7 linked regions of the Homo sapiens genome follow. The protein of the gene in region 1 purifies or fractionates together with the protein of each later gene. This does not show direct contact. Each region holds a gene or a part of one and is shown in the gene's direction. Other genes may lie near its edges. The genes, in order: CDV3, SUGP1, COBL, UBAP2L, RRBP1, QKI and TSFM.

Region 1 (3,500 bases):
ATCTTCAGGGTTATTTTGATCTTGATCTATTTTGGTTACTTTTGAGATAGTGAAAAGTGTCTTAAATAACTTACATACTTCACCCTTGCCAGGGATATAAGTAAGTATCAGCTAGTACAAGCATTTAAGTTCTGTTCAACCTGAAGGTAGACTAGCTTTTTTTTTTTTTTTTTTTTTTTGAGACGAAGTTTCCCTCTTGTTGCCCAGGCTGGAGTGCAGTGGCAAAATCTCGGCTCACTGCAACCTCCGCCTTCTGGTTTCAAGCGATTCTTCTGCCTCAGCCTCCCGAGTAGCTGGGATTACAGGCGCCCGCCACCACACCTGGCTAATTCTTGTATTTTTAGTAGAGACGGAGTTTCATCATGTTGGTCAGGCTGGTTTTGAACTCCTGACCTCGTGATCCGCCCGCCTCAGCCTCCCAAAGTGCTGGGATTACAGGTGTGAGCCACAGCACCCGGCCTAGACTAGCTTTTATATTGTTTTTTTTGTTTTCTTAGCATCTAGTCATTGGCCCTAAGTGGCCATCCTAGTAGAGGTATTCCACTAACCTGCAACACTGAGAAACACTCCTTCCCATATGTTCTTCACTCAGATCCACCAGTCTCTGCTACATGTGCTTTATCTTTTTCTATTTCTCGGTATACTGAGAGCTGCAGATGTCACATTCAGTCTTTTTTTCTTTTTTTTTTTTTGAGACAGAGTTTCGCTCTTGTTGCACAGGCTGGAGTGCAATGGTGCGATCTCAGCTCACCGCAACCTCAGCCTCCCGGGTTCAAGCGATTCTCCTGCCTCAGCCTTCCGAGTAGCTGGGATTACAGGCATGTGTCACCACGCCTGGCTAATTTTGTGTTTTTAGTAGAGACGGGGTTTCTCCATGTTGTTCAGGCTGGTCTCAAACTCCCGACCTCGGGTGATCCACCCACCTCGGCCTTCCAAAGTGCTGGGATCACAGGCATGAGCCTCTGAGCCCAGCCAGATGTCACATACAATCTTAAAGTTCTTGACCCTGGTCCTTATAGTAGTTAGCATATTAGTTCTTTACCTGTACATTTGAAAGGGGAAATTTTTCATTAGCAGCAAACGTATTATATATTAAGATCCTATTTCACATTTACCAACCAGCTCAAGATTTAAGTACCAAGGTACTTAATGTGCCCAGTTTTGTGTCTGAATTAACAGATCTTATTCAAGGTCATGCTGTTATAGACAGATTCTTGAGAGGGAAGCCATTGAGGTGGTTATAAAGGAGGCTGTCATTTGAGTTAGATCCTTGGTTGTTTGTAGGCCCTGTAGGCCTCTTTCATCTCTATTTTTTCATTTTTTTGAGACAGTCTCACTTTGTCACCCAGGTTGGAATGCAGTGGCATGATCATAGCTCATTGTAGTCTTGAACTCCTGGGCTCAAGTGATCCTCCCACCTCAGCCTCCCGAGTAGCTGGGACTACAGGTGTGAGTTGCCACCCCTGACTAATCTTACTTTTTTTTTCTGTAGATGAGGTCTATTTTACCTAGGCTGGTCTCAAAACTCCTGGCCGCAAGTGATCTCAAAGCAAAGGAATCACACGCATGAGCTGCTAGGCCCAGCCACTTCCATCTTTAAAGTGGATTTTTGGGAGAATGTTAGAAAGATTTAATTCTTGAAGGTATACACTGTTGAGCATTTGTCACGTTTCAGTAAATAATTGAGTTCTTGGAGCCCAGTGGTTTTCTAGAAACTTTGGTGAGAAATCTAGACTTAAACCTTTTAGGTAGAGCTGGTTACATTATCCAAGGTGGATTTATTCTAGCAAATACTTATGTGACTACTCTGCTAGACACTGAGGTTCTCTGGTTGTAGAAATAAGTCATGCTGTAATAGACAACAGTAGATAATTTCAAAGAGATGTGCATGGTGCTCTGGGGCAGAGGAGAGACATTTCATCATCCATGAAGGGGTCAGGAAAGATTCTTTGGATGAGGTGCAGTGCCATTTTAAGCCTCCAGGCCAGGCATAGCTGATCAGGCCATGTGTATCTCCCCATTTTACTGTTGCAGCAATGCTAGGTATAATAGGGACAAACCTGTGGAGATGCCCGGTATTCCAGCAGCTCAATCCAGTCTGATTTTTGTTTTAGCTGCTTCCCCCTAGTGTTGGGGAAGGGGAGTTAGGATGTATAAATTCTCATGTCTCTTGAGGTAAAGAGATAAGGCTGTTCTATTCTTTATAAATATACTGCTGCAGGATGTGTGATCCTATCAGCCTTACTAAAGAAAATGCATTTCTCAAATCTTAGAGAATATTTTTGCATCATACCTTAGAGCTATAAAGGGGATAAAATGAATTAAAAGGTAATGTGAAATAATAGAGCCTCTAGAATCCCACACTATTTTGGCTCTGCTACTTTGTAGCCCTGGGGAAGGTACTTATGTTTCCTCATACATACATACAGTGGGTCTCTTGGCTGCCTTAGTGTTACTGTGAGGTTTAACTTTGTACAGTGGGGTGGAATGCTGCCTGCTGTAGTAGATATTCAGTAAGTCTCCCTTTTGTAGCATCATTATTCTCCTCACCTTACCAGTAGTGCCTTACAGACTTACACATATTTAAGACCGTATATGTGGAATTGTGATGAATTTACAGCAGTATTGTAGTGTTTGTTTATAAAATTTAGCTGATGGGAAGCTATATATTATATTTGGGTCAAACACTGAATTTCAGCCTGTCTCCCATGGAAATAACCGTTTGGAACGTGTTTCTTGTTCTGCTATGACATTTGGAGAGTTGATACTTTCTGAAATATGTAAAGATGAAAAAGTAATAAAATATGTAAATCATTTCTACCCTGCTAACTGGCATTTAGGCAAGCCTCTAAGCATCTCTGGGCTTCAATTCCTTCAATTGTTGGATGAAGAGTGTTTTTGGTTTGTTCGTTCTTTTTTTTTTTTGATAGAGTTTTTGCTTTTGTTACCCAGGCTGGGGTGCAATGGCGCAATCTCCGCTCACTGCAACCTCCACCTCCCAAGTTCAAGCGATTCTCCTGCCTCAGCCTCCCAAGTAGCTGGGATTAGAGGCATGTGCCACCACGCCTAGCTAATTTTTGTATTTTTAGTAGAGACAGTGTTTGACCATGTTGGTCAGGGTGGTCTCGAACTCCTGACCTCCAGTGATCTGCCCGCCTCTGCCTCCCAAGATGCTGGGATTACAGGCATGAGCCACTGCGCCCGGCTGATAAAGAGTCTTGACTAGACAATTTCCACATGTTTAGTTTAGCTAGTATTTCAGAATCTTAACCCAAAATACTTATTTATTTTTATTATTATTATACTTTAAGTTCTAGGGTACATGTACACAACGTGCAGGTTTGTTACATAGGTATATATGTGCCATGGTGGTTTGCTGCACCCATCAACTTGTCATTTACATTAGGTATTTCTCCTAACGCTATCCCTCCCCCAGTCCCCCACCCCCCAACAGGCCCTGGTGTGTGATGTTCCCCTCCCTGTGTCCATTTGTTCTCATT
Region 2 (3,500 bases), on another chromosome or scaffold:
CCCACCATCGTGCCCGGCTAATTTTTGTATTTTAGTAGAGATGGGGTTTCATCATGTTGGCCAGGCTGGTCTTTAACTCCTGGCCTCAGGTTGTTCCTCCCACCTCGGCCTCCCTAAGTGCTAGGATTACAGGCATAAGTCTCTGAGCCCGGCCATTTTTTTGTATTTTAGTTGAGACAGGGTTTCACTATGTTGACCAGGCTAGTCTTGAACTCCTGGCCACAGGTGACCTACCCGCCTCTGCCTCCCAAAGTGCTGGGATTACAGCCTTGAGCCACCGTGCCGGGCCTGTTTTATTTCAGAGGCAGGATCTCACTCTGTCACCCAGGCTGCAGTACAGTGGCACTATCATAGCTCACTGCAGTCTGGAATTCCTGGACTCAAGCTATCTTCCCACCTCAGCCTCTTGAGTAGCTGGGACTACAGATGTCCACTGCCATGCCTAGCTAATTTTTAAATTTTGTGTAGATGGGGTCTCACTATGTTGCCCAGGTTGGTTTTGAACTTCTGGGTTCAAGTGATCCTCCTACCTTGGCCTCCCAAAGCATTAGGTTTACAGGTGTGAGCCACTGCTCCTGGCCCGATGTGTTTGTCTAACAATTTTTTTTTATATTTGAGATGAAGTCTAACTCTGTTGTCCAGGCTGGAGTGCAATGGCGCGATCTTGGCCCACTGCAACATTCGCTTCCTGGGTTCAAGTGATTCTTCTGTCTCAGCCTCCCCAGTGACTGGGATTACAGGTGCCCGCTACCACGCCCGGCTAATTTTTTGTATTTTTAGTAGAGACGGGGTTTCATCATGTTGGCCAGGCTGGTCTTGAACTCCTGACCTCAGGTGATCCGCCTGCTTTGGCCTACCGAAGTGCTGGGATTACAGGTGTGAGGTCCCGCACCCGGCCTTTGTAACAATTTTTAATTCAAATGTATTTTGATGTAAGTAGAACCACACTGTAGATACTGTTTTATAGCCTGTCCTTTTGTTTTTTTTTATTTATTTATTTTATTTATTTATTTTTTTTTTGAGATGGAGTCTTGCGCTGTTGCCCAGGCTGGAGTGCAGTGGCACGATCTCGGCTCACTGCAGGCTCTGCCTCCTGGGTTCACACCATTCTCCTGCCTCAGCCTCCTGAGTAGCTGGGACTGCAGGTGCCCCCCACCATGCCCGGCTAATTTTTTTTTTAATTTTTAGTAGAGACGGGGTTTCACTGTTTTAGCCAGGATGGTCTCGATCTCCTGACCACGTGATCCACCCGCCTTGGCCTCCCAAAGTGCTGGGATTACAGGCGTGAGCCACCGCGCCTGGCCTTGTTTTTCCTTTAACATTGTATTTGATTGCTTGTCTAAAATTTCAACTTTTCAGGGCTGCCCCATCTTCCCTGTGGATGGCCCGTAATTTATTTAACCAGTGCCCCTTGTTGATGTATTTAGGTTATTTTAGTTCTGATGAACTAAAAATTATTCCTTTCTCCTATTTAAAGGAAAAAGGCTAGCCCTGTGGACTCCATGAGCTTTTTGCACCATTGGGTACATCCATATGGTGGAACGTCATGCGGGTTTAAAAAGCAGCGTATGTGAGGAATTTGAGATTGGAGCAGGATGGTGTGCTACAGTAGGAAATGGAAGAAGTAGAGTGTGTGCTGTGATCACAGCCTTATTTCCTCTGACTTCTAATTTAGAGAGCAAAATAAAGATATATACCAGTGTTAATAGTGGCTGTTGCAAAGTAGGGAGACATTGTTGGGTTTTTCCATTCCTTTCTGTTTCAGTTTTTCTTTTTATTTTTTTTTAAATGATCTTACTCTGTCACCCAGGCTAGAGTGCAGTGGCATGATTGCGGCCCACTTCCGCCTTGACCTCCTGGGCTCCGGTGATCCTCTGGAATGCTGGAATTATAGGCACACGCCACCACACCCAGCTAATTTTTTGTTTTGTTCGTAGAGATGGGGTTTTCTCCATATTGCCTAGGCTTATTTCAGTTTTTCTACATTTCCATTTGTTCCATAATGAGCCTCTGTTACTTTTTTTTGTTTTAAGAAACATGATCTCACTCTGTTGCCCAGGCAGACGTGCAGTGGCATGATCATATGTCACTGCAGCCTCAAACTCCTGGGCTCAAGTGATTCTCCTACCTCAGTCTCCCAAGTAGCTGGGATTACAGGGATGAGCCACCATGCTTAGCCAAAGCCTGTGTTTCTTTACCCATGTGGGCCTGCAGCTCAGAGCTGGGATCTGCAAGCATTTCTTTGGGCATCATACATTTCTTTTTTTTTTTTTTTTTTTTTTTGAGACAGAGTCTCGCTCTGTCGCCCAGGCTGGAGTGCAGTGGCGCAATCTTGGCTCACTGCAAGCTCTGCCTCCTTGGTTCACGCCATTCTTCTGCCTCAGCCTCCCGGGTAGCTGGGACTACAGGCGCCTGCTACCACATCTGGCTAATTCTTTGTATTTTTAGTAGAGATGGGGTTTCACTGTGTTAGCCAGGATGGTCTCTATCTCCTGACCTCGTGATCCGCCCACCTCGGCCTCCCAAAGTGCTGGGATTACAGGCGTGAGCCACCGCGCCCAGCCTGGGCATCAAACATTTCTAAGAAAACAGCCAAAGCAATCTTGCTGGAAGAATCACAGGGCATTTTATATTTTATCTTCACTCTCTCCCTCTTTTTTTTTTTTGCAAAGTATATGTTTTACTTTTTAAAAAATATGTTTTTAACAAGTTAGCACAAAGGCAAACCCAGGGGCCTAAATATATTTAAATCAAAGTTGAGCACAGCTGATATACTGTTGTCAGAGCTGCCCTTCATGCCTGTCAAAAAAATGGCATTGGCCAGGAACAGTGTCACATGCCTTTAGTCCTAGTGACTTGGGAGGCTGAGGTGGGACCATTGCTTGAGGCCAGGAGTTCAAGACCAGCCTAGGCAACATAGTGAGATGTTACCTCTACCAAAAAAAAAAAAAAAAATTAAAAAATTAGCCAGGCAGAGTGGCACATGCCTGCAGTCCCTGTTATCGCACCATTGCACTCTGCACTTTAGCCAGGGCAGCAGAGCAAGACCCTGTCTCTTAAATAAATAGGTCAGGTGTGGTGGCTCACACCTGTAATCCCAACACCTTGGGAGGATGAGGTGGGAGGATGGCTTGAGGTTAGAAGTTCGAGAACAGCCCAGCCAACATAGCGAAACCCCATCTCTACAAAAATACAAAAATTAGCCAGGTGTGGTGGCACATGCTTGTAATCCCAGCTGCTCAGGAGGCTGAGACATGACAATCTCTTGAGCCTGGGTGGAGGAGGTTGCAGTGAGCCAAGATTGCCCCACTGCACTCCAGCCTGGGCGACAGAGTAAAACTCTGTTTCGGATAGATAGATAGAGAGGGAGAGAGACAGAGAGAGAGAGACATGTAGGCCCTGCCTTGGAAAACTCTAAGGTCTAGCAGGAGGACAGACATGAGTCAGTAACAACCCAGATAATCAACTAGCAAGGGAGGACAGGTGCTGTGCAGAGAGAG
Region 3 (3,500 bases), on another chromosome or scaffold:
AAAGTGCTTACTGTGTGCAGTGTAAGAAGAATGCAGACTCCTTTGCAGGAAAGAATTCTTGTTCACTAAAGGACAAAATTATCCTTTTAAATTTTGCTGGCTAAAAATTTGCTCTGTCACTCAAGCTGCTTTGAACTCAACCAAGCACAGTTCTAAAGAAAAAGGGTAAAATATTCATCCTAATTCATCCTTTTCCTTAAGTCATGCTGGTTGGTTTCTTGTTAGATTTCTGTCTCCGCCTTGTCCAAAGGTATTTGCTATTTTTAAATCATCACAGTGTTTCTATATATGTGTGTGCTGATTTCTTCACATAACATGCTAACATAAGCATGGATGTGTGTTTCTACATAGACTTAATGATCATCATATTTACTGATTTTAATGCCCTTTGAAATATATATGTAATAATTTAGGTAACTGCCTAGTGCTGGACATTTCTAGAATTCTTACATGAACTTTGTTGTATTTATATTTTTCCTTCTATAGGGTTTCCTTAAAGCAGATTATTAAAAAAGAGATTAATGGGCCAAAGTTCTTACAAAGATAACGTGATTTTTGTTTGTGTGTTTTTTGATATGTATTTCCACATTGCTTTCCAATTAAAACCTGTAGCAACAAGTGTGGGTCTGTCAGATTCATCACATCTTCATCAGCTTGGGGTGGGTTTTTGTTTTGTTTTGTTTTGTTTTGCTATTTTGCAAAATGGTAGAATCAGTGGAGTTTTTATCTTATTATTTTTTTTAATTCTTATTGATATCATTATGTTCCATGTCTCATAGTGACGTGATCAAGCATACTTTAAAATAAAGGCAAATACTTTGAAGTAAAAGTATGTCTGTAATTTTGTTTGGCTGGGCTTTAAGCATCCTAAACTAAGAGCAAGCATTTAAAAAGTTTTCCATCTTTCCAAGTATTTAAATCTCTTTTCCATTTCAGATTGCTCTTTTATATGGCAATTTCCATTTTTCTCTGCCATATATTTTATTAAAAATTTAAATGTATTTAAACCATCTCATTCCATGAAAGAGAAAAGCAGAACTTTAGTAAAGTGCATTCAAATAATTAAAGTCCATGGCAAAAGCAATAGGGAAGACAGTCATGCACCTCTTGTGGTCCTTATTAATGGGTCCACATGCACACACATCTCCAACCAGCCCCCTTTGTGTAGCTTGTCAGAGGACATTAGCTGAGACTAATCTGGAAGCCACTTCCTGGCTCCCAAATGGACATAGTCACCAAATCAGAAAGACTCATTTATCAGAATAAAAACTTTGCTACGTGAGGATTGTGCAAAGCTTATTTCATGCATCATTATCTGGGCCTGATTAGCAGTGATGGAAATTGGTCCTCAATTTTTAACAATCAGCGGAAAACAAACCTTCAGCTTTCACTGAAGATAGACAATTGCCATAGACATGTCTCTGTGTTTTCTGCACAATAGGAAAATAGAGGCAAGAGCCCTTGCAAAGACAGTTTTTAAATTGTTTTGGCAGCAGTTGTCTCACAGATGCCATTGTCCCTGTGACGCAAATGAAGCCAGATCCCGCTCTCTGAGCAGACGGGTTGACATCTTCCTGGATGCCCCGTGCCACAGGGGCCACATTATTATGTGTTGTGGCCCCAGATGCAGCTGGTCCTTCTTGGGCTTTGGGGGCAGGCAGGCCTGGTTCCAGATGCCAGTGTGACCTGGGCAGCTCTGTAGTCTCTCCGTACATAGTTTCATCACTGTACAACAGTGACAACAACACTACCTGCCTGAAAAACTGTGAGGGTTATAATAAGATAATTTATGCAAAAGAGCTCTGTGCGGGGGCTGGCACAAAGGCATGCAGACAGGCCTCACACTGCTAGGAGCTTCCTCCTGTTAAGTCTGAGAGGAGGCCCTTGGGAAGGGTCTTGCGGAGTCAAGGGTGGAGCAGTTACTCCTGCTACTGTTGCTGTGAGGTTTTTTGGCCATCCTTATTGTCCTTATGTCCCAGTTCAAGATTCTAGGGAGTACAGCTCTTCAAGTGGCATTATCAGGCCCCCAAGCCCTGCCCCTGCAAGTGGCATTATCAGGCTCCCTGTCACCCACCAAGGGTAGGAATTAAGCCAAAGTAAACATAGAGTCTGTAAAAGTCATTTATAGTAGAGGAGTGAAATTTCTCGTTTTCTGAGTCTGGCAGGGTGGGCTACTGCTAGGGTGGACACAGATGGAGGCTGAGCTTATGAAGTTGGTGGGACTTCTGGGAACACTCCCCCATGCAGCCCTGCACAACCCTCCCCACGGACCTCCTAACAGCAGGCAGATCCTGCACCAGAGGTATGTAGCCTTTATCACTGGGACCTTGAACGACGCTGCACTCAAATCCGCAAGTGCCAAGGAACAGCCGGGCTGTGCAGTGTTGAGGTGAGGTGGACCAGCCTCCAGCCACGTGCACATGCTTGGCCTCCAGATGGCTTCACTCCTTCTTGCCAGGTGCCAGGTGCAGGGGACTGCTGTAGCGCAAGGCACAGATGCAAGCAAATCCTGGATCACGTGAACCGTCTTTTGTGCGGTGGAATTAAAACTTTGACTTCAGTCTGCAGAGTGAATGAAAGCTGTGTGTGGTTTGGTTACTGTAACACTTTGGGGCCCCACACACACACCATATATCACATGTCCACCACATACAAGACATATACTCCACACATGCACACACGCTACACGCATCCCACACATACCTGTGCACACACATGGGGGACACACACACCCATGAACAATCTGCGTCTCCGTAGTTCTGAGGACAACAGCAGTACAGTGAGTATGTGACTGCTTGAATTTGAGTATGAGCTGTTCTATCCTCAGATATTCCTGGAAAGGAGTACATTAAATCAATAGTAAGAGAAATGAGTGCTCCTTTCTCTTTGGTCTTCCCTAGAACTGAAAAAGCTGTCACAGCCTCAAATGATGAAGAAGACCTATTAATTGCTGGAGAGTTCCGTAAAACCCTTGCAGAACTTGATGAAGACCTGGAAGGTAAGAACCACCTGATCCGCTACTCTGATATTATGCTGCATGAAAGTAGGTGCCAACAGTAACTTCCTCTGAGCATACTTTGATGTATCTATGTGAGGAAACAGCCTTCAGAAGGAATTCCAGGTCAGTTTGGTGAAAGTCTGGATGTGAGGCGCACACAGGTTTCCGGTAGACTGCTTTTTATCTGGGCTGCCAAGCAGTACCTGGAAACATCCAGACAACTGCTTACAGTGTGCTCTGAATAATACTAATTCAGTGCATTAAAAAAGTATGCCACACATGTTAAAGAATAAAAAGGGTGGCGCAAAAAATAAACAGATTTCCTCATTAAGACTTCTCTTAATTTGTTGATATATGGCATATCTGTCAATGAGAAATACTCAGCCTTTTGACCACAATGAAGCCATTTATAATGGAGCATCTCATGGCACTGCTATTATATTGATATATTTTGGGGAAATAATACTGGAAGGCCAAAGCAGATGGCAAATAGTTGCAGTAA
Region 4 (3,500 bases), on another chromosome or scaffold:
TATAGGTATTGAAAGAATTTTGACCTGAAATATAATAGGTCAGGCCAATAAATAAGTGCTTTCATTCTCTAATTTTTTGTAGCCCTTTGTTTTGTTTTTTGTTTTTTTTTCAGATGAAGTCTCACTCTGTCACCCAGGCTGGAGTGCAGTGGCATGATCTTGGCTCATTGCAGCTTCTGCCTCCCGAGTTCAAGCGATTCTCGTGCTTCAGCCTCCCGAGTAGTTGGGATTACAGGCGCTCACCACCATGCCTGGCTAATTTTTTGTATTTTTAGTAAAGATGGGGTTTCACCATGTTGGCCAGGCTGGTCTCGAACTCCTGACCTCAAGTGATCTGCCTGCCTCAGCCTCCCAAAGTGCTGGGATTACAGGTGTGAGCCACTGCACCCAGCCTATTGTAGCCCTTTGGATAGATACTTTGTTTGGAAATTTTATCTTAATTTTAACCTCTTGCCTGTTGCTGATGCCATTTTGTAGAAACTGAGCAGTTGTGGGTATAGGAAATGTGGAAATTCATGCTGAAGCCTGTGTGTTTCAGAGTTTGATTCTGTATTTGATGCTTAATTGCTTTGTAAATACTTTTGACCTCATCCCTGAACCACAGATGTTAATATTTGGCTTTTGGAAATAGAATACCAAAATTCTACATGTTTTCCTTTTTGGCGGGGGTTGGGGGGGTGGTTCTGGAAAACCTGCTAGGCAAATTCTACATCATTTTTCTTTCTTTCTTTTTTGTTTTTTTTTTTATTTTGAGACGGAGTCTTGCTCTGTGGTCCAGGCTAGAGTGCAGTGGCGCAATCTCAGCTCACTGCAACCTCCGCCTCCTGGGTTCAAGCAATTCTTCTGCCCCAGCCTCCCAAGTAGCTAGGATTACAGGCGCCCGCCACCACACCCAGCTAATTTTTGTATTTTTAGTAGAGACAGGTTTAATCATTTTGGTCAGGTTGGTCTCAAACTCCTGACCTCAGGTGATCCGCCCACCTCAGCCTTGCAAAGTGCTGGGATTATAGGCGTGAGCCACTGTGCCCAGCCCTCATCTTTTGCTTTTTAAACTTGTTTTTTTCAAACTCAACTGATAGCGTTTCCCTTCACCTAGTTTCCTTTCATTGGGAGTGTGAGCATAAGCCTGTTCATGATGGTTGCTGTTTTTTCTCTTTCAGTTGATTGATATTACAGGCAAGAACCAGGATGAATGTGTGATTGCTTTGCATGACTGCAATGGAGATGTCAACAGAGCTATCAATGTTCTTCTGGAAGGAAACCCAGACACGGTAGAGTGCTTATAGAGTGTTCTAGGACATGGGTCCTCAATTGGGAGGCTAGTAATGTTCTAAAAGTAGCAAATGGCAACATACCTTAAAGCAGAGCACCTTTTTCTTGAAGTAAAGTTGGGAACTTTCTTGGAGATTGTTCACCACAGGTTATAAATACTTAAAATTTATGTGTACTACATCCTTTTTATGAGGATAATGCTCATAGGAGAAAACAGTGAAATCAGTCTCTGCTAATTGGCCTGGAATAAATTATTTATTCCAGGCTAGTGACTGTTTTCAGGCTGTGGGGTTAGGCTGAATTAGAGGTGCGATTTGATAGCCTTGGATATTGCTGTTGAACAAAGTCACACACTATACTTGATTCTGTTTTTTTTTCTTTTTATTTTATTTTATTTTATTTATTTTACATATTTGATTCTGAATTCAGGACATTCCCCTCAATATCAGCTTCGCATTGCACACTACTGTTTCATTGCCTGAACTTCCTTCTGTTGAGGTAGCAGAGAAACAAGCTTTGTAGCCTGCTGACCATCCCTGGAGATGATAGGGGATATCTTGGAGGATCTCTTGCCCTGGAATTTAGACAAGTCGCTTTCACTTCTCCTTCCCACTTCATGAGAATTCTGTTTTTATGCTTGTCTTATGTTTGTACCAAATTGTAATCCTCTGACTGCCTTATTGATCTTCAGAATGTTCCTGCAGTGCTTACTAGAGAAATTTTGTTTTTTTAATGAGCAGTGTATTATTATTATTATTATTATTTTGAGCCAGGGTCTTACTCTGTGGCCCTGGCTGGAGTACACTGACATGCTGCAACCTCCTCGTCCTGGGCTTAGGTGATCCTCCTACTTCAGCCTCCTGAGTAGCTGGGACCACAGGCATGGGCCACCATGTCCAGCTGATTTTCCCATTTTTAGTAGAGCCAGGGTTTCTCCATGTTGCTCAGGCTGATTTCAAACTCCTGGACTCAAGCTAGCTGCCCGCCTCGTCCTCCCAAAGTGCTGGGATTATGGGCATGAGCCACCGCACCTGGCCCAGTGTATTATTTTGAAATCATTTTCATTTATTGGGTCTTATACTGGGGCTCTTTGGTTGGAATAGATATCAAAATTCATCCTTACAGATAACAACTTGTTTTTTTTCTTGAGTCAGAGTCTTGCTCTTGTTGCCCAGGCTGGAGTGCAGTGGCGTGAACCTGCTCTCTGCAGCCTCCACCTCCCAGGTTCAAGTGATCCTGTGCCTCAGCCTCCAGAGTAGCTGGGATTACAGGCATTCACCACCATACCCAGCTAATTTTTTTTTTTTGAGACGGTGTCTCTCTCTGTCTCCCAGGCCGGAGTACATCTCGGCTCACTGCAAACTCTGCCTCCTGGGTTCAAGCAATTCTCATGCCTCAGCTTCCCGAGTAGCTGGGACTACAGGCATGCACCACCATGCCTGGCTAATTTTTTGTATTTTAGTGGAGACAGTGTTTCACTATGTTGCCCAGGGTGGTCTTGAACTCCTGAGCTCAGGCAATCCTCCTGCCTCGGCCTTCCAAAATGTTAGGATTACAGGCGTGAGCCATGAAACCTGGCCTCAGATACAACAGCTTTCTGATACTACAGAGTCACTCCAGCTAAATGCAGGAGGTTTGTCAATTTCTTTGAGACAATGGGAAATAATAATGGAAAACTTTTAAAAACAATTGAATTTAAATTGGTGGGTTTTTTCTTCAAAAGTGTTATCCTGGATTAAATTTTACACTGTTGACCTTATTTGAATATTTACTATCTGGCCAATCAAGATATGCTTTTGATTTGTTTTGGGTTTACTCTAGAATAATTGTCTCCAGATTTTATGGGGGGAATCAGGTGGGGCTATTTATGTTTTTTTAAAAGTCTGAATGTTTTTTCGCAAATCACATTTTATCTTACCTTCCAGCATCTTCTGTCTAGTGCTATAAGGCTGATGTTATACAGTATCAAAAAGGAAAATAAGCTGGAGAATATAGGTTTATGTTACGAATAAACTAGCTACTAGTGAAACCAATGGGAAGCAAAGTCAGCTCCCAGGGATATTGGATGTATTTGGGTGGGTGAGATCATTTCAGAAAACTGAAGTCGCCTTTGGGAAGATAATAGTAATTCTTTCTCCTGACCCATCTTGTGCCAGCAACAGATGTGCATACAGAGGAGGGAGAAAGGTTACAGTTTCCTGAAACTTGCCAGGTTTTGAGATAGCAGC
Region 5 (4,119 bases), on another chromosome or scaffold:
AGGAACCGCCAAGATTAAAAATAGGAATGAACAGTTTAATTTCAACCCAATCGCTCTTTATTCCCCATGAAGGCTTGTATTTTTCACATCTTTCTAACAACAGCTAGTACAGTACTAGTGACAAATGGGGACAGGGAAGATTGAAAATTGTCCAAGAAATAGATGTTAGGCACGGGATTCTGCAGCAACAGGAGCTAGGGAAGTGATGGGGGGCAGTCTAGGCAGCCTTTGGTCGCTCAGAATCCAAAATTCCAAAGAAGCTGGCTTTGGCTCAAGTTCAAAGGGTTGGCTTTAAGAGACGCTGACATAATGGTTAAAAATCAAGCCTAAAATTATTTTAATTTAAAGACTTGACTAATTATGAAGACTGAGTGTTGGCTGATATTGGGGAGAAAGTCAGGGAATGAGGAAGTACCAGTTGCTCCGTTTTGTGGGACACGGATGAGTTTTCTTAGGTTAGAACCTCTCACCTTCCCCAACGCATGGAATAAAACGCCACAGAGTGGATTGTAATTATTGCTCTGCCGGCTGTGATTTGGTTGAGTATCTTAAATAGACCGTGCCTCAGTTGTACCCTCCCTAACAACGAGGGCGATGACATCCGCTTCAATTCCTCGTGCACCTTCTGGCTCTTCCACCCCAATTCCTCCATTTACTGAAGGAAATTCCTTCTGGTGCTGATTGCAATCTCTTTGATGATAAGAACTTGCTCTCCCTGGGCTGACCCCCAGCAGAGCTTGTCCTCATACCCGGCGGCCCGAGGGGGCGCTGCTTCGGGGGAAGTTAGTTGGGTTTAAATAAAGCAGCTTCCTTGGCTGTTCGCGGTTGCGCAACCCTGTTCAGCCACCGCCATGTCAGCCCAGCGGTATCCAGAGGCGCAGGCCCGGGGTCGCCGGGACCCGAACCTTCTGCTTCCCGCCTAGGCAGAGCCGGATCCTAGTCAGAGACTGCTGGGAGCGCCGCGGGCCCAGAGTGGGCGGAGCTGGCCGGAGACCCCCCCCTCGGTGGGCGGGGCGTTCCTGCTCCGCCCCGCCCCGCGCACGGCCGAGCGCCGCGCCGCTCGGCCCCGCCTCTCCCCAGCCCTGCCCCCTTCACCTCCCCGCAGCTCCTCCCCTCTCCCATTGGCCGAGGTGGAGACCCTCCTCTCTGCCCAATGGCCGCCGCCGCGGCTCGGCCACCCGCGTCCTGACTGGCCAGCGACCGGCAGAGTGGCGGGGTGCGGACCAATGGGAAGAGGCGGCTCGATGAATGGCTGGCCCGGGTGGGGAAGGCAGGAGGCGGCGATCCCGGCGGAGGGGGCCGTTCGCCAGCTCTGAGGCAGAAAGTGCCACGACTCCACACGCGCGCACGCAGCCAGCGAGCGGCCGGAGCGGACGGCAGACGGGGCGGGCGGCGTCAGGGTCGCAGCGTCTACAGCTGCTCGGGGGCGGTTTCTTGGCGGAGGCTTGGCCGGCTCCTCTCTCCCGGCTCCGCGGCGGCTGCGAAGGCGGCGGCTCCTGCCCTCTCGCTTTCCCTCTCGCGTCTCTGGCTGCAGGTAAGAAACTTGGCCGGGCCCTGCAGCGGCCGCGCGCGGGCCGGGCCGTCGGGGGGCCGGGGCCGGCCGCGCTGCGCCGCGAGTGACACGTCTCCTCGGCGGCCCCTCCCCCGGCCCGCCCGCCGCCCGCCGCCTGCCGCCGCGGCCGTGCACCATCGGGGTCGGGGTCGGACTCGGGGCGGGGGTGCCGGGCAAGCGCCGTACCGGGGCGTAGGCAGGGCGCGCCCCGTGGTGTGGACCCCGCGGCCCTCGCCGTCCGGGGAGCTGCGGCGGCAGACGGGCGCGACGTGGCGACCGCTCCCTGCCTCCCTCCCTCCCGGCAGGGCCGTCGGGCCGGCCAGCGCGCTCCGAAGTTGGGCGAAGAAAGTTGGCGGCGGGGCGGGGCGGGGCGGCGCACAGCTGGCGGAGGAAGGGGTTAAGTTTCGGGAAGCCGCCGGATGACGTTGCCGGGCTGGAGTCCGGGCCGGAGGGGTGGGGTGCGGGCGGAAGGCGGCGGAGGCCGGCCGAGGGGAGGAGGGCGGGATTGAATGGGGGCCCACGGGCCGAGCGCGCCGGTCCCGGGCCGCGGCCCGCTGGCGCTTCGCGGGGCTGGGACGGCCCCCGACGGGGCGGGCCGGGGCCGCAGGGCTCGCGGCGCAGGGACCGGGTCTGTCCATGGCACGGACGCCGGGCGGCCGCGGTGGCAACTTCCCGGAGTGCGGGAGGCGGCTCCCTGCTCCCCCTGGCGGCGGGGCCGGGGCCACCGTTTCCCCGGCTGGGCTGCGCGGAGCCTGGCTCGAGGGCTCCCGGCGGGGGGACGAGGGCGCCCGGGGCCCGGCCCGCCCCGCCCGCGGCCACGATGAATGGGCCGGCGGTGCCAGCCCCGGGCGGAAGCGGACACCTCCGGGCCGGCCAAGCGCGCTGGCACCCGGCCTGGTGCCCGCCCCGGCCCGGCCGGCTCTCCCGCTGCGCCCTGATTAGGGGAGGCAGGCCGGGGTCTGCGCTTCCAGTGGGGCGCCCGCAGTGCTTCAGGGACCCCTCTCCGAATGATAAGTCGCGAGTTTTAGCTCTAGAGTGCCCCGGCTGGCGAGGGTGACCCCGACCAAGTTGTTTCGTTCGGGGTCTCCATTTCCTGGTCTGCAAATCGGGGCTCCTGTTAGCTTCGATTTGCGAGGAAAGCTGTGGAGACCCAGCACTTGTAGGAAGGAGCCACAAGTGTTGGCTGTTCAGTTGGGATGCTTTTGTTGGGGGGTGCTGGACACGGGAGGAAGGTGGGGCCTGGCTCCGGCACTGCGGCGGGCGCGGGGCTGCAGAAGTTGCACAGCCGGGGTTCTACACCCCGGACCACGTACTGGCCGCCTACTCGCAGGTCCCATAGCCCCTCTGAATCCTAGTTTCTTATCTGTGGCCTGAAGACAGCACCACCCACTCACAGGGTCGGGAACCACGCCGGGAAGTGCTGGGACCTTGTACAAACAGAAGGCAATTTGGCAATTACTCTGAGAGGTCAGAGGTTAGGAGAGACTGGGAAGCACCAAGGAAATGAAACTCTGAGGGACCTGAGGAGCCTCCCACGTCACTGCTCAGCTATTCACTCTGCGTGCTGGAACCTTCAGGGTAGGGGCCATCTGGATGGCATTTTCAGGAATTTGGAGAAATGGGCCTGGTAGGGCCTCATATCTCACATTAGATACCTCTTCAGAACTGGGTGTCCCCAGAGACCCAGGACGTCTGTCTGGCACTCCCAGGAAGAACAACTGCGAATGTTACCCCGCCCTGTGCAGCTGGGGGGCATTCTCCCACTGCCCCGCCTCCCTCCTCACACTCCTTGTTTGATTTAACTTCCTGTTAATCCGACACCTAGAGAAATCTGTGACCCTGCAGCATGTCACTTACTGTGTGATGTCTTGACTCGTTTACGAACTTGCCAAAGGTCACTCCCACTATCATATGCCAACCTCTTTCCCTTCCAGAAAGAAGCTTCCGGTTCTGAGGTCCTGGAGGTGCCATTTCCCTCTCTGTTGAAGCAAAGGCCGGGGCAGACCTCCTAGTAGGTGAAGTTTTCCTTTTACATGGAGCACCGCAAAGCCGGCTTGCAGGGATCTTGGGCCAGTGGAGGCCTGGAGGAGGCTAAGGTTGGGGGAGGGGAAACCAGAAAGGGATCTTGGGGTTTAGGAGAGGGTTTAGAGCTCTAGGCACTATAACAACTCTCACCTTTCATACTTAGGAATCTGCCTCTGAACATTTACAGAGAGATTAAGAAGTTACAGTGGTTCATGGTATATGAGTATTTTTTGGTGATGGAAGAGTTTTAAATAAATCTTAAATCAAGTCACATTTGAGCAATTATGCTCTTTAATGAAATGAGCCCTAACTCAACAGGCTGCAATAATTACATAGCAGCAAACTCAGTTTAAATGGTTGAATGCCAGTGATTGAATTGGAGTATTGATTTATTATGTAGCAGGGACACCTTTTAAAAGTGTCGGGACCCCAGACTCTTCTTGTCTTTTTAGCCCTGGGAATTTTAACTAATAGATGAATGACACATAGAGGATCAACAGTTCTGTTGAGACAGCAAGTTTTTCTTTGCTAAAATCTTGTTT
Region 6 (3,500 bases), on another chromosome or scaffold:
TGTTATTTGTAGTACTTGCTGCCAAGGTGCTTAATTTTACTTTACTGTCATTGTTGGGAAGGAGATTTAGGAAGATAAAATTGCTTTACTTAAATAGTATAGTTTCTTGTCAGTCCTTATACCAAAGGGTATCAATTCATAAGCAGAGAAAAACTACCAGTGCTCATCTCAGCTCTTGGAAAATTTTGGCATTTATGGAATTATATAGGTAAACTCCCCACCCCGTTAGTTACCCTTTTAAAAGTCCCCACATATATAGTTCTTGTACTCCATGCAGGGCACAATAGATAGGAATGATTTCTTGTCCCTAAGTGCTGCTTTGGTGTGTTCAGGATAACGACTGTATTTGATTGAGTGATTTTAGTTTAAAAGAAAGCTGAGTATAATCATATGTGGCTGATTGTCATTTAACACAAATAGCTATGTTTTTAAACACAGGTGTGTCTTTTAATTTTAAACAGTGCCATTACTTAGAAAACTGATAAATTGAAGTTTTCACTTAGCTGAAACTAAGCTCTTTTATTTCTTTTTTCTTTTTTTTTTTTCAGTTGGAGTCTCGCTCTGTCACCCAGGCTGGAATGCAGTGGCGTGCTCTCGGCTCACTGCAACCTCTGCCTCCTGGGTTCAAACAGTTCTCCTCCCTCAGCCTCCCGAGTAGCTGGGATTACAGGCGCCCGCCACCACGCCCGGCTAATTTTTGTATTTTTAGTAGAGACGGGGTTTCACCATGTTGGCCAGGCTGATCTTGAACTCTTGACCCCATGATCTGACCGCCTCGGCTCTTGACCCCATGATCTGACCGCCTCGGCCTCCCAAAGTGCTGGGATTACAGGCGTGAGCCACCAAGCTCTAAACTGTTTATTACTGTGCTTTAGCAGTAACAGTGTTTGAAAATCTGTGATGAATTTTTAAAAAATATATTGCAGAAGTGATTTATCTAGAATTCTTACAATTAGCAAGAAAAGGACTGCACTTAATGTTTTCGTCTTCAGTTTCTTGATGCGGAAACTCTAGTTTGAAAATCCGGCAATCCTATCAAGTCTAACAAAATAAATTATGTTCATAAAGTTGCTTCATGTATTAGTCTAATATTTTTGTAGAACTAAATTTTGAGGCTGGGGAAATGAATCGATTGTAAGATTTATATCACATTATTTATTATAAGCAGAATGTGTCATATTCTGCTTAGCAGATAAGCAGATATTGAAGTATCGGAAAGAACATAATTAGTCGGATGTGGTGGTGTGTGCCTGTAGTCCCAGCTACTTGGGACGCTAAGGAGCGAGGATTGCTTGAGCCCAGGAGGTCAAGGCTGCAGTGTTATGATCATGCTACTGCGCTCCACCTTGGGCAACAGTGAGACCCTGTCTTAAAAAATAAAACATCAAAATGCAGTTACATCCATAAAGTGGCTCCACATAATGGTCACAATGTAAGTAAAGGGCATGTGTGTGCAGGCATTTATATCTGTAAGTGAAGACATGCAGTGAATGTGAGCTGGGCTTTGTGAGTACTGGGGCTGGTTAAGTTCCAGCTGAGAAAGGTTGGCCCCGGGATTGAATAAGTAGCTGGCCTTAAGTAAGCACCTCGCTTTTGCTTTAGTGCAGGAGAGGTCATTGTAGAGACTGGGCCTGATCTCCTGGTCAGTAGCAAATCATTGGGGAGCCCTTGGTTTTTAAGCTGATTTTATAGTTTGAAATATATAGGAAAAAACAAACAAAAAATAATACATTTTAAGAGTAGAATTAGGGAAATGCATAGTAAGAAAACAAACATGCAATTTTAAAATTTGAAACCGAGCCTGGTGAGGTGGCTCATGCCTGTAATCCCAGCACTTTGGGAGGCCGAGGCAGGTGGATCACGAGGTCAAGATTTCGAGACTAGCCTGGCCAATATGGTGAAACCCTGTCTCTGCTAAAAATTAGCCGGGCATGGTAGAGTGTGCCTACAGTGCCAGCTACTTGGGAGGCTGAAGCAGAAGAATCGCTTGAACCTGGTAGGCGGCGGTTGCAGGGAGAGGAGATTGCGCCACTGCACTCCAGCCTGGGTGACAGAGCGAGATTCCATCTCAAAAACAAATAAAATTTGGAACCTTTTTTGTAAACTCTTCAATGTCATAGTTTTACAGGGTCTCAAACTTACTTTGCAGATTATATCAGAGAATTGTGTTTTAGAGCTGCAGGGGACCTGAGAGTTGGGAGTATATGTTCATTTCATAGGTGCAAAGACAAGTGGGCAGCAGAGCTAGAGCAAGACACTCACTTCTGCCCTCTGTTCCATTTTGTGGCGTGCCTCTCCACAAGGGGAACTGGAGGGAAAAACCTGGAATATTTCCATATGCTAAAAATCTGCTGCTGTTGCCTCAAGTTGTGAAGGTAAAGAAGACAAACCAAATGATTTTTTGCTAATTCTGTGATATGCTGGTTTTGAACAAATGATGGTCAGATTCTTAGAACTAGAATTTATTTTTAACGATAACTTTCTAATTAAGAGGCTAAAAGTGAGAAAGCCATTTTTAGAGGATTTCAGCTCATTCACTTCTTTGTAAGCAAAGGCTAGAGCCTCAGTTTTTTGAATAATGTAAAAATTGTTGCTGCTATTATTTTTACTACTCAAGAGGAAACATTTTTGGCTGGGTGATTTAATAGAGAAGTATGCTATTGCTAAGTGATTCAAGTTAGGAATGTATACTTGTATCAGTTTTAGATCAGCCTGGGGTAAACAGCCCAATGATATATCAGGTAGATAACTGAAGAGTGACACCCAGGAGGTGGATGGTTATGAATTGAATGGAAACGGTGCTGCACCAGATAGCCACCAGGTAGCTACTATATCGTATTCCTGATGCCAGCATCTGGGGGATGATTGCTCATTTCAAATAATTCAAACAAATTAAATGTAAGCCACAGTTCTTTGCTATGTTACAGCAATTATATCCCTTTGATACAGTTGTTACATGGCAGGTGAATACATTTTTTTAAGAAAAAAAAATTTCAAACTGGGATCAAAAAAATTACCCTGAAACCGCATCTAATTGTCTATTGTCGCTGATTCCACCGTGGTTGCAGTGATGCCATTATCATGAGAGTATTCAAGTTTTAACTCTGTATGTGTGTGCCTGCACATGCGTGAGCCAGCATAAAGATGAAATGAATTTATGTTTTTGTGCATATGCTAATGAGACCCTGTGATGAAGTGGTAAGCATTCTTGTACTATAGACCTGGGATCTAATCATGACTCCGCAATTAACTGGTTTGGTGATCTTGGGTGAGATAACTAATGTCTCTGAACCTCAAGCTTCTTCATCTGTGAATGAAATTATCAACTGCCCTGCCAACCTCAAATCCAAATACTCTGAAGTTGATGGGTATTCAGAAGAGCCTCTCATACTATAAAGTAGCAGCATCACTGCTTGGTTTTTAATTTTTTTTTTTTTTTTAATTTTGTGTGAGTCTTTCTCTGTTGCCAAAGCACTGGATCTTGGCTCACTGCAACCTCT
Region 7 (3,500 bases), on another chromosome or scaffold:
TTTTTGTAAGTATGTTGCAGACATCAGGATCCTTTATTCCTTCAGCATGTATCTCGTAAAAACAAGGACATTGTTATATAACCACAGGACAGTGATCACATTTAGGATTTTTTTTTCTTTGAGACGGAGTGCAGTGTTGTGATCTCAGCTCACTGCAACCTTCACCTCCTGGGTTCGAGCAATTCTTATGCTTCAGCCTCCTGAGTAGCTAGGATTATAGGCATGCATTACTACTTCCAGCTAATTTTTTTGTGTTTTTAGTAGAAATGGGGTTTTGCCATGTTGGTCAGGCTGGTCTCGCACTCCTGACCTCAGGTGATCTGCCCGCCTTGGCCTCCCAGAGTGCTGGGATTACAGGCGTGAGCCACCGCACCCAGCCAAAATGTGTTAGTTTTAGTAGTTGTCATTCTACTGTTAGAAATAAATTTCCCTTCTCATTTTTATTTAGTGATTTATTCAGCACTAACATTGACTCGTGGGTTCTTATTTTATACAATAAGTTATAACTCATTATTCGTTTTGATGCTCAAATTATCTGCGGATTTGATCAATGCAAGCTGACTGTAATGTCCTTTGATATGCCCTTATTATTTTCTGAGTATTTTCTTACTTTTTGGCTTTTTTGTTTATTCTTATCTTTTGGGTTTATGTCATACTTTCCTTTCCCCAACTGTGGAATGGGCCACTTCTTCAAGGAGTCCTGGTCCTTTTTAGTTGGGGAATGGTTTTTAGAAATCAAGATTTGAATGTTAGGTGTGCTGATTTCTTTCTTTCTTTTTTTTTTTTTTTTTTTTTGAGACAGAGTGTTGCTGTGTAGCCCAGGCTGGAGTGCAGTGGCGCGATCTTGGCTCGCTGCTACCTCTGCCTCCTGGGTCCCGGTTCAAGCAGTTCTCCTGCCTCAGCCTCCCGAGTAGCTGGGATTACAGGCACGTGCCACCATACCCAGCTAATTTTTGTATTTTCAGTAGAGACAGGGTTTCACCATGTTGGGCAGGCTGGTCTTGAACTCCTGACCTCGTGATCCACCCATCTTGGCCTCCCAAAGTGCTGGGATTACAGGCGTGAACCACTGCGCCTGGCCAGGTGTGCTGATTTCTACTGAGATGTCATTTGTTCTTCGAGCAGACAGTGCAGGTGTATGTGCTGTGTGCGTGTGGTTCAATCCTTCCTTTTTCATAGCAACTTCAATATGTTTACTGTTTTTAGTTATGTACTCATATGTACTAAGTGTTACAATATATATACAAAATTGTTTCAGAATTGCTACCCCTGACCACTGCAAATAACAAAACTACTAAGGAGTTCAAGATTTATTTGTAGTTCTTTTTGTCTTTACATTGAAGTTAGGTGGTCAAATGACTCCGTTTAGTTATTTGGATTTTTTTTTTCCTTCTGTGAGCTTATGTTACTCATTTGAAATATAGTTTTATATTTCTTTGTAGTCAGTATTTATTTTCACCCCAAGTATGTGTTGATTTAATTTTATTTTAATTTTATTTTTTAAATGTGTGTTTTTTTTTTTGGCTGGGCACAGTGGCTCATGCCTGTAATTCCAGCACTTCGGGGTTTTTTGTTTGTTTTTTAAATCTTTTTTATATTAATAGAGATGAGGTTTCACCATATTGGCCAGGCTGGTCTCAAACTCCTGGCTTCAAGTGATCTGCCTGACTTGGCCTCCTCAAAGTGCTGGATTATGGGCATGAGCCACGGCACTGGGCCAGATTTTTTTTTTTTTTTTTTAAGATGGAGTTTCACTCTCATTAGCCAGGCTGGAGTGCAATGGCATGATCTCAGCTCACTACAGCCACCGCCTCCTGGGTTCAAGTGATTCTCCTGCCTCAGCCTCCTGAGTAGCTGAGATTATAGGTGCCCGCCACCACACCTGGCTAATTTTTGTATTTTTAGTAGAAATGGGGTTTCACCATGTTGGCCAGGCTGGTCTCGAACTCCTGACCTTAGGTGATCCACCCGCCTCAGCCTCCCAAAGTGCTGAGATTACAGGCGTGGGCCACCGCGCCCGGCCGGCCAGGTTCAATTTTATTTTTGAATACATAAGATACATTAAGAAAGTCCTCAAAGTTAAAACTGTCAAAAAAAAAGTATGCTCAGAGGAGTCTTACTGCTTCTCTCCCTTCTACCCCGTTCCTATCCATCCCTTTATTTAGATAACCAGTGTCATTGGATTGTGGTTATCCTTTCAGTATTTCTTTTTGCAAAAATAAGCATATTTATACAAATAGTTCTTTGTTGCACAGATAGTAGTATAATATGCATATACACTTATAATCTGCTTTTTTCACTTAATAATATGTCCTGGAAATACTCCATAGCAATTCATGAAGGTCATCCTTTTTATTTTTTCCAACTACATAGTATTCTGTTGTGTGGATGTGCTATAGTTTAATCTCCTGCTATGTTTGGGCATTTAGGCTGTTTTTAAAATTTTCTGATTAGAAATAATTGTTCAATGAATAATCTTGTGCAGTATTATTGGAAGTATATCATCAAGGTGAATTCATAGAAATAGGATTTCAGGGTCAAAGGATAAATGCATATGTAGTTTTATTAGATACTACAACTTCACACCATTGGATTTGTACCATTTTGCATTCCCATCAAAAATGTGCAAATCTAGCTCTAACATTTTATGATTTTATGAAAATATTGTTCTTGGCCAGGTGCAGTGGCTCACGCCTGTAAACCTAGCACTTTGGGAGGCTGAAGCAGGTGGATCACTTGAGGTCAGGAGTTCAAGACCAGCGTGGCCAACATGGTGAAACCCTGTCTCCACTAAAAAAGATATAAAAATTTGCCAGGCATGGTGGCGCATGCCTGTAGTCCCATCTACTCGGGAGGCTGAGGCAGGAGGATCGCTTGAACCCGGGAGGTGGAGGTTGCAGTAAGCTGAAATCATGCCACCGCACTCCAGCCTGGGCGGCAGAGCGAGACTCCATCTCAAAAAAAAGAAAAAACTGTTCTTGGCCAGGTGCAGTGGCTTACGCCTGTAATCCCAACACTTTGGGAGACTGAAGCAGGAGGATCTCTTAAGCTAAGAGTTCAAGACCAGCCTGAGCAACATAGGGAAACCCCATCTCTATATTTAAAAGAAAAAGAAAATAATTGTTCTTGATTTCTAGGAAATTACATTCTAGGAAGTTAGGCTGGAGGATGAGAGTGGAATGTAATTGGGGGTGGTGCAGTGATAGAATAAAATGTTTATAAAGATGGAACTGTTACCAATTTTTAACATTCTTGCCTTTATGAAAATATTGTCTACACTTAGTTGTCTTAAAGAATGTTTTCTTTCTTTCTTTTTTTTTTTTGAGATGGAGTCTCAATTCTGTTTCCCCGGCTGGAGTGCATTGGCATAATCTGAGCTCAGTGCAACCTCCGCCTCCCAGGTTTAAGCGATTCTCACGTCTCAGGCTCCCCAGTAGCTGGGATTACAGGCGTGTGCCACCATGCCCAACTAATTTTTGTATTTCGTTGGAGACGGGGTT

What was found.
Region 2: the proteins of CDV3 (region 1) and SUGP1 fractionate together in Homo sapiens (co-fractionation; one large-scale study listed by BioGRID). This does not show direct contact.
Region 3: the proteins of CDV3 (region 1) and COBL fractionate together in Homo sapiens (co-fractionation; one large-scale study listed by BioGRID). This does not show direct contact.
Region 4: the proteins of CDV3 (region 1) and UBAP2L fractionate together in Homo sapiens (co-fractionation; one large-scale study listed by BioGRID). This does not show direct contact.
Region 5: the proteins of CDV3 (region 1) and RRBP1 fractionate together in Homo sapiens (co-fractionation; one large-scale study listed by BioGRID). This does not show direct contact.
Region 6: the proteins of CDV3 (region 1) and QKI fractionate together in Homo sapiens (co-fractionation; one large-scale study listed by BioGRID). This does not show direct contact.
Region 7: the proteins of CDV3 (region 1) and TSFM fractionate together in Homo sapiens (co-fractionation; one large-scale study listed by BioGRID). This does not show direct contact.

Annotation. Positions count from the first base shown.
Region 1 is NC_000003.12:133,576,686-133,580,185, forward strand, and holds part of CDV3 (protein CDV3 homolog), read left to right. Parts: intron 1-3,500.
Region 2 is NC_000019.10:19,310,510-19,314,009, reverse strand, and holds part of SUGP1 (SURP and G-patch domain-containing protein 1), read left to right. Parts: intron 1-3,500.
Region 3 is NC_000007.14:51,030,310-51,033,809, reverse strand, and holds part of COBL (protein cordon-bleu), read left to right. Parts: intron 1-2,900; coding exon 2,901-2,998; intron 2,999-3,500.
Region 4 is NC_000001.11:154,227,455-154,230,954, forward strand, and holds part of UBAP2L (ubiquitin-associated protein 2-like), read left to right. Parts: intron 1-1,160; coding exon 1,161-1,271; intron 1,272-3,500. UniProt on the Homo sapiens protein: Recruits the ubiquitination machinery to RNA polymerase II for polyubiquitination, removal and degradation, when the transcription-coupled nucleotide excision repair (TC-NER) machinery fails to resolve DNA damage.
Region 5 is NC_000020.11:17,679,443-17,683,561, reverse strand, and holds the start of RRBP1 (ribosome-binding protein 1), read left to right. Parts: upstream 1-1,319; 5' UTR 1,320-1,534; intron 1,535-3,486; 5' UTR 3,487-3,563; intron 3,564-4,119. UniProt on the Homo sapiens protein: Acts as a ribosome receptor and mediates interaction between the ribosome and the endoplasmic reticulum membrane.
Region 6 is NC_000006.12:163,421,218-163,424,717, forward strand, and holds part of QKI (KH domain-containing RNA-binding protein QKI), read left to right. Parts: intron 1-3,500. UniProt on the Homo sapiens protein: RNA reader protein, which recognizes and binds specific RNAs, thereby regulating RNA metabolic processes, such as pre-mRNA splicing, circular RNA (circRNA) formation, mRNA export, mRNA stability and/or translation.
Region 7 is NC_000012.12:57,789,287-57,792,786, forward strand, and holds part of TSFM (elongation factor Ts, mitochondrial isoform 2 precursor), read left to right. Parts: intron 1-2,678; coding exon of another isoform or gene 2,679-2,741; intron 2,742-3,500. UniProt on the Homo sapiens protein: Associates with the EF-Tu.GDP complex and induces the exchange of GDP to GTP. It remains bound to the aminoacyl-tRNA.EF-Tu.GTP complex up to the GTP hydrolysis stage on the ribosome.